2 separate regions of the Homo sapiens genome follow, and region 1 is linked to region 2. Evidence: fine-mapped expression QTL. Tissue or cell type: whole blood. Region 2 holds a variant in brackets; the other region holds the start of a gene. All regions are shown on one strand. Distances are between the middles of the regions.

Region 1 (4,392 bases), 53 kb before region 2:
TAAAACAAAGATGTGGAATTTAACAAGATCCAACAAAAACTGTGGAAGGGCACAATATATAAAAATACCATAGCCAAGAATCAAAACACTAACTTCTGTCACAGGAGGGGGAAAAGCTCTTGCAGATGCATGGGGGGATGGGGCTGAAGAAAAGGGGACATTTGTTCCAGGGCTTTCTTCAGATTTGGGAGCGAAAAAGGCTAGCAAGACAACAGCATTCTACAGAGAAGCCAAGTGGGGAGGTATAAGGGTGGCTGGTTTTTCCTTAAGTCTACACGTTTCCAACTGCTATTTCATGCTTCCAGCCGTTACCATATGTTCTCAGATTTTAAAGTCACAATAAACGTCAGGGTGAGCAGCTGTGGAATAATTCACACTTTTGTTCATTTTCCAGCACCCCCCATCAGATCCCATTGCTTAAATAATGCCCCACCCTCCCACCACCTGTACATCAAGGTCATGGTCCTCCTCTATTAACAGCAGTGAGAACAGCCAGTTTTACTCTTGCGGGAAGTTGGCAGAATTGCAAACTTGACTGCTGAGCTTCGGATGGGTCATGAAATTTTTAGTCTCTAAATCTTGCTTTTCCAGGGGTTAGATATTTAAAACATTTCTTCTTCCTAATGGTATCTTTCAATCACGCAAATTACCACAAGTACACAAGAGCAAAGACGATCGCATTCTGTGTCAGTGTTTTGTTTGCATTGTGAGAGGCTGATAATGTGGGAGGAAGTTTGTGTAGTGACTGTCTGGGTTCAGATCCTGGCTCTGTCACTTATTTGCTGTGTGAATTGACAAATGTAAACTGATTAGTATGGTGCCAGGAACAGATGCTATTATTATTCAGCAACTAGCCTGAATGTAATCATGTACTTGTTTACCTTTGTAGCTTCTTAAGGGCTAATCCTTAAGGGTTAAATGCTGCAGGGATCTGTTATGTGTTTGCCCAGTTAAGTTCTGGGCAAGGAAAAGGCCTGGGTGTTCTGCATGGCTCCCTTCCCTCTTCCACCTATACATCCCATAACCAGCATCTTCTACAGTGCAGGGGACAGGCCTACTGGCCCATGGTTAGTTGCTGGCCCACCTGTGAGAACGCAGGAAAGTCTGAAAGACGGCAGAATTGAGAGGCCTCAGTTTGGAGCTTTTCTTTTTACTTCTCTGCAGGGCTGGTAGGATTGCAACCTTACAGAACTGCAGTCTATCAGAGGCATCCAATTGTTTGTACATCTGCTCAAAAAGCAGCTTGCTCTTGGGGAAAGAGATGAACAGGCCTGGCCTGGCCCTTTGTGACACCAAAGAGGCTAGCACTGCTCTTGGGAGCCCTGCCCAGTGGTCTGGCCTTGGGAGCTGCCAGCTACACGGAGAGAGTTGGATCCTCTCCACGTAATGAAATTGACTCAAAAAGAACAAAGTTGCTCTCAACACCTGCTCACCCTCGCACAGCTCTGAAGGCCAAGAGGGGAATGGGTAATTGCAGACCACAGGCAATGACAGAAAAAGAAGGGGGAAAAATCAGCAGCCACTAGTTTAGCATATTCTCCTTCATTTCATGGGGGGAGATCAATGCAGACCTCACCATGCCTGTCTCCAGAGAGCTGGAAACAGTGGAATGGCTCAAAGGGCAGCAGGAGAGAAAGGACTGAGGGATCTGGAAAAGCAGCCCCAGAATGGTCTCCTTTTTATGTAAGCTAGCTTGGAATGGGTTTCTATGACTTGTACCCACTCTTATTTGCAATACATTTTGTGAGAAAGGCAACATGGACACCTTGGCACAAGAAGAACAGCAGTCCACTCACCATTTCAGAAGAGCTGCAAGGTGGCTTCAGGGTTCTTGGGGCACCAGAGGCAGCCTAGCCCCAGTCACCCACGGAGCCCTCCAGCCTACTTTTGCTCACTTTGTTTGGCTGCATTGCCCAGCAGTGGCCAACCTCCATGGAGTCCACATGATCAAACTCACAGAAGGCAGCAAAGATGGGGACACTAGGAAAGGAGGTCCTCAAAATTGAATCTTCCTCTTTCGCTGACTATTGTAATCACACCACTAGATGTTGCCAAATGTTTGTAGAAGGCACTTCTCCTGGTACCTGCCCAGCTCACACCCACAGGATGGACAAAGAATGGTCAAGTTTATTCTGTGTGACCCCTATCCATATTCATGACTCACTGGACAACACGTGTCCACACCCAGCCCAGTTGAACCAACTGAATTAGGACCTGGCGTAGACGTCTGGGCTCATGGCTTGAATGAAGGCTATGTAGTCACAGGAGCCATGGGGTATCCCTGCTTGGCCCTGCAAGCCAGAACAATGGAAGCCACTCTGGAGAGAGAGAGACAGAGATGAAAACAGATGGAAAAGCAGCGAGAAGCCACGGGAGTGAGCTGCCTGCATTCCCCGCTCTCCAGACCCGGGTTCTGGATCCAGCCTCACCTCCTGCCATAGTTTCCGAGAGGTATCCCAGTCTCCTTTCAACTCAGTGTCTTCCTTTTTGCTTACTTGATTGGGTTTCTATTACGTGCATCCAGAATAGTTTCCACTAAGGCAGTGATTCACAGTTTACTGAACGCTTTCACATGTTATCCTGTTTGGATTTTGCTTCGCACGCTACTCCAGGGAGAAGGCAAGGGAGGCATCATCATCATCTGCATTTTATGGTCAAAGACGTCCAGGCAATGACTGCTCAAGGTCTCCTAGGCAGGGAGGCAGGTCTTTGACCCAGACACAGCATCATCTCCACTGCACCACACCCTCTTGACATTGGAGGTGTACTTCCAGGAAAAGGGACTCTGGCGCCAAGGTATAATTGGAAGAGAGATGCTGCATTCCTAAGCACAAGCGCATATTTCAAGGGGAAAATAGGAGCTTCAGCTTGATAATTCATGCCACAGCTTTCATGAGACTGACTCTGTAAACAAAGTGTATTGAGAACGGGAAACCAGGCGTGGAATTTGTGGTGGAGAATACTCCCCCTTATAAAAATATGTGAAGCTTATAATATCATATTATTTTAGCATTTGTCATACTTCTTTCTCTCTTTCTCGAGGGCACCAGTGAACAATGGACAGGTAGGTTACATTTCTCTTCTCCACCTTTGCCTAGTCATCACTGACAGTTTCCACCCAAAGTAGATTAGCTAGGAAACTGACACTCTTGCCACACACACATGTGCATGTGAATGTACTCCAACACACGTGCACACACACATGCTTGCTTGTGGATACCACCTTCTAAAAACAGCTCTATTGAGATATAAATTCAGATACCATATAATTCCTTCATTTAAAATGCACACTGTGATTTTTGGCATATTACATCATTTAAAATGGTTACATAACATACAACTTGCCATTTTAACTATTTTTAGTGGTATTAATTACATTCACAATGTCGTGCATGACATTGCAATACAATCATTAAAACCATCTATTTCAAATGGATGCTATTTTTTTTGGTCCCTCTCTTTTTCCCTTTCTCTCTTCCTCCTTCCTTTCTCTTATGTTTATTTTTCAGTTTTTTAGGAGACAGGGAAAGTCCATCTCGCCTCCAGCCCTGGCCTTCCCCATGCATGCAAATCCCCACTGCTCTTCTTGACACTCCTCTACTTATCCAACCTAGGCTCAAACTGGAAGGCAAGACCTGATCATATGACCTGATCATATGTGAGTTTCTGTCTGCACCCAAGTCTCTAGGACACAGAGGGAACATCTTGCTTCTGGGACATTCCTCAGGTGCTGAGCTCCCCTGCCTGAAGGGAGCTGCTTGAGGACTGAGCTGTGCATCTTCATTCTGGACCCTGGTCTTTGCTACAGGGGCTCAGTGATGTCTGCAGAGTGGCCTTGGGGGCCCCTACATTGTCTGGCCCAGATGCAAGCGCCTGCTGATGTTCCACAAGGAATCTCTCCCCAGACCAATGTTAGGTTTGGATGTTTTCTTCTTTCTCGTCATCTCCTTTGCTTCCTGTTACTTTTTACCCTCCTAAAAAGTGTGAAGAAAGAACCTGCTGAAAATTCCATCTGATTGGGTCTAATAAGAGCTCAGCATTTGATGCTTTCCCCCATGGCTGGTGGGGGAAAGTTTGCTCCTGAACAGTGTTAAGTTCTGGACCCTTACTTCTGTGTTCTAGGAGGGCAACCCCCTTCCCCACCCACCCAGTAATCCACTCAGAGGGAAGAGAAGGAAGGATGAATGGCTTTTCAGAAGAGAAAGCACAGTTCTCAAGTGGAGCCTTGGGTCTCTCTGCATAGGACTGACTGACGAGCCTATCTGGAGAGCTCCTACTAAGCCCAGTCTCCTGTCTCCTCCACCACCAAAAGGCATCCTTTGGTGATGTCATTACTGTCATTCACCGTGAATATGGACAATCAACAGCCAAGGATCTTTTGTGTAATTAAAT
Region 2 (4,392 bases):
AAAAAAAAAAAAGCAAAATAAATACAGGCTATGGCTATTCCTTAACTTAATTCAGGGTTCAGGAGTATATACGAAGATCTTACATGGTTCTCACCTATTGGTTCCTACATTTGAGAGGCAGCCTCAGGAGTGTTATAGGAGGGAAAAGGAGAGATAAAAAACAGGAGAGGTTCCTTGGCTTATAGATGCATGGGTAGGCATAAGTTTAATCCAACAATAATGAGGTTCCCCTAAGGCTGGTATCTAGACCTTTCTGGAGAAATGCTGTAAATTGATAAATATGAGATGTCATTAGTCAGGTGTCCTGTTTTCACTCTTCCCTGGGAGGGAGCAGGTTCTGTTTCAGGTACATCCCAGGTCTCAACTTCCCCCACCTGCCCCCTCCAGAAACCCTGAGGCCAGATGGCCTTAGGTTGATTATGAAGTCAATGATGCCTCACCACCCTTACGGTCAGAAGGACACCTCCACGGAGCACAGGGGCCTTCTGCTCATCAAAATCTCTACTCAGTAACAGTGCTAAATATCAATTATTTAGCTCTTAGTGTGAATTGACTGTATGTCATTTTACTTACATACATCTGCATTTTATATCTTACCTTTACTCTGGAATGAAAAGTTTGTGCCCCCAAGAAAGCCAAGAGACAGCAATAAGAAGGGGAGAGAGCCAGTGCACAGCCATCGTGTCCTAGGTCAAAAGTCCCATCCCCACTTCCAGTTCTCATAAGGTATGTGGCTTTGGGTAATTTATTTTCCCTCTCTTGTCCTCAAAACCCTAATTACAGGGTCTCTGAAGTCTCTTCCAGTCCTAAAAGCTGTTCCACCGATGGTGGTTTTAGTTGGAGGATCTGAAGGGGCCCAGAAATAACACGAGGGCAGATACAGTCAGCCCATACCCTAGCTGACCCAGACAACTCTGAACACCCACCAGTGTGCCTCACCCCCAGCCCCAAGTGAGGCCCCCTTCACCCCACCTTCAGGGCAGGGCCTCACCTGAGCCAGGCTGCGAGGGTGGTGGTATCCCAGGCCCCAGTCCAGCCTCACTGTACAGCCCCCTCCTCTACCCTCCCAATCCCATTTCCTGTCTAGCAGATTTATAGTGCAGTTCAAAGAAGGAAGGACGATATAACAGCTTTCCTGCTCCCTCCCTCTCCCAACTGATTTAGTCTAACTGGCTCAGTGCCAAGCATTTTGCTCTCCACAGCCTCTCATATGTAAAAATACCCCAGGCCCCAGCCCTCCTGCCAGGAACATGGCGTCAGCTTCCAAACCCACCGGTCAGGCCTTCACTGGTGGGCGGGAAGGAGGCTGCCCTGTGAGGCGCTGGAGTCTAATTAAGTGCTGAGGAAGCAAACCATGGGCTTTAATTTTAGCTCTGAAAATAGCAAGGGCCTAGGACTCCTCTCTCTGGCCTGAGCTGTGATGAGAGTTGCCTCCCTCTGCCTGCTCGGTGGGGAGGAGAAGAAAGGATTCAGAGGGTGACGACAGCGGGAGGCCAAGGAGCCAGGAAGCAAGTGGGAGGAACGGGCTTCAGGGAGAAGGGGACGCAAGGCCAAGCCTGGGTCCATGGGACATGCCACACCCGCCACATCTGCTTTATCCCTACTTCGCATCCTAGCCCGAGTCTAGAGTGCATGGACACTCAGGAGTTCCGAGTTGCGCCAAAAATACCTCCAGAGCCCCGTGTGGCTAAGAATGCTAAGCTCTGGCCAACGTTGAGGTAATTCCCTGGGAAGATAATAGAATATGCATCACAGTTCCATACACTAACAGCCTCTGAGGCAATGAGGGTGAGGAAAAGCATTGACAAATGGACAGGTGATCATCAAAACTGCTGCGAACCCACCGAATGGCTCACTGGCCCAGCTGGATGTCACACGGGCTCCTGGCATCCTCCTGCCCACCTCCCTGTGTGGAAGGAGAGAAGTCAGCCTGCCCAAGGCAACAGGCAAGGACACAACAAATCAAGGGGCAAGATGGGAGAGGGTGCTCATGCCCAGGGGGTGGAACGTGGAGGGGGCCATTGGCTTTGCCCGTTGGGTCACTTGTCAGTCACTCACCGTGTCCTAGCTCTTCTCACACTATATTATCATTACCGTCCCCCTCCCACATTAGACCAGGGGGCATAAGCTGCATCCTTGGGACAGGGGCTTTATGTTATCCCCTCCCTTCCCCACTCCCCAGCACATTCTGGGCATTTACTTGGCTGAAATGCTTTTGTTTCTTTGCAGCCTCCCCTTTGTAACAGCCGGCACCCAATTTGCTTTATATGGTCATGAGCCCTCTTACCTGCAGCATCAAATGGGAGGCATGAAGCCACGATAAAGAACAAGCAAAGTGAGCTCCGTGAACGGGCTTTCCCAGGCTGCCTTCTGCACACATGAGCCTACCCAGAGGGGACACAGAACAGGGATGAGGCCTCTTGCATCTGTGGGGGCTATGAAGACAAATGTTATGTGTACCTAAAACTAAACCAGCACTCACTGCTTCCAGGAAGAGTTGGAATAAAAAGGAAGGAGAAACTCACCGGAAATGAAACTCAAAGGCCAGGAGTGAGGGCGGTTACCCGCCACACTCCTGTGAGAGCCTACCCATCATGGCGAAGCTGGAGAGTGGGCAGATCCTTTCCCAGAGCCCCTCCAAGTCACCTTGGAGATACCATCAGACTTCCCTCTTTTCTTC[A/G]GATTTCTTCAACCACTCCACAGACATATTTAAAGCACCTGCCACAGCTGTCTGGTAGGCACAATGTGGAAATAGCCAACCACCTGGGGTGCTGGAGGGGAGACCACCGAGGGCTGAGGGGGACAGGGCTGACCCTGGGGGTCACGGAAGCCTCTGCCTCTAGAGGGGGTGGAGGTTACTGGGGCCTGCTCCAGGTAGAGCTACCTCTCCCTCTCCCTCTTCTCAGCCTGGCATCTCTACCCCCCATGGGTGCTGTCACTCTGAGCACCTCTCACTCTCCAGAGTGCCCCTGGCACCCTGGTCTCCCTGCTTTTTGGCTCTCAGGAGTCTGCTCAGGGCCCAGCTGGCCCTAACACAGCGCGTTTCTCTCAGCAGAGTCTGAAGCCAGAATACAGGCGACATGTAAGAATAATGCCAAGGACAGGAGAGGATGGGGCGGCCGAGGAGAAGCACCACGTTACCCTCAAGCCCTACCCTGTGGGCAGCTGTCCCCACCCCGGCTGTGCTTGTGGAGATATCTCCGTGTGGCCAAACCACAAGGCCCCCATTTGGAGGATCCCATTTTCTAACCACCTTGGCCCAACATCAATAACAACATTGCCCCATAAGAAGCCGCGAGGCATTTCCTCAGGGAACCACCAGCGCCAGGGCTCAAAGACCAAGTCCAGACACTAGGAACTCCCCTCAGGAGTGTAAAACCGAGTTCAGAAATAAGAAAAACAAAGTTTCCAGCCCAAGTCTCCTCCATGGGAGACACCCTCAGCGCCCCTCCTCACAGCTGCTAGGCCTCCTCCTCGGGCCGGCCCCTCATTAGGAACTAACAGTCCCAGCCATGCCAGCCTCCAGGCCTCCTTGTTAACTCCTTGGTTTCCCTTAGTGCTGCCAGGAGAAAATTAGGCCTCAGAAATCCTGAGCAGTACTGAGAGGCAGAGAGCACCTACCACAGATGGTTAATGGTGTGTACATTCTATGGTTTCTCTTAATAAACCAAATTAATAATAATTGCTGCCATTTATAGAGTGCCTCTTATGCTTTACCCACTTGCATTATGAACTCTTCTGCAGCCTCTCATGTTTGCAACAACACTAGAAGGTAGGAATTTCTTCGCCTATCCTATAAATGAGAGCATGGAGGCTGTGTAGCTGGCAAGCAGATGTGTGGTTTAAACTCAGCTCTGTTCTGTTTTTCGCCCACCTTATTACTTACTTTGAGCAAAACTGGATTCTAAAATGTGCAGATTAAAGAGCTGACCACTACCCTTGCATCGTCCATCTGCAGAAGTTTTACATCTTTTTCTTTTCCTTTTTTTTTTTTGAGATGGAGTCTCACTCTGTCTTCCAGGCTGGAGTGCAGTGGTGTGATCTCAGCTCACTGCAACCTCCACCTCCTAGGTTCAAGTGATTCTCCTGCCTCAGCCTCCAGAGTAGCTGGGATGACAGGTGCCTGCCACCATGCCCGACTGATTTTTGTATTTTTAGTAGAGACGGGGTTTCACCATGTTGGCCAGGCTGGTCTCAAACTCCTGACCTCAGGTGATCCACCCACCTCGGCCTCCCAAAGCGCTGGGATTACAGGCATGAGCCACCGCGCCCGGCCAGAAGTTTTACATCTTTAAAACCAGAAAACACTGGGTTGAGAATGGGAAGAGTCAGGGGGTCTCCCCAGCCAAAGGGGCTTGTTGACTTTGAATAAGTACCAGCTGCCTTGAGCTT

What was found. PIP is the estimated chance that this variant, and not a neighbour inherited with it, causes the effect. A credible set is the group of variants that fine-mapping cannot tell apart.
Region 1: it holds the start of LINC00222, and the variant in region 2 is the best candidate, but not a certain one, in a credible set for the expression of LINC00222 in whole blood (TOPMed, PIP 0.59).

What each region holds. Positions count from the first base shown.
Region 1 is chr6:108,749,254-108,753,645 of GRCh38, reverse strand. LINC00222 (long intergenic non-protein coding RNA 222) reads right to left here and starts at 1,992. Exons shown (of 5, transcript NR_033376.1): 1 at 1,797-1,992.
Region 2 is chr6:108,696,692-108,701,083 of GRCh38, reverse strand. No RefSeq gene overlaps it. Among named protein-coding and RNA genes, the nearest start is that of LINC00222, 53 kb to the left of the region's middle. RefSeq lists enhancers at 1,276-2,082, 1,310-2,509. The variant A/G (reference allele first, on the strand shown) is at 2,681.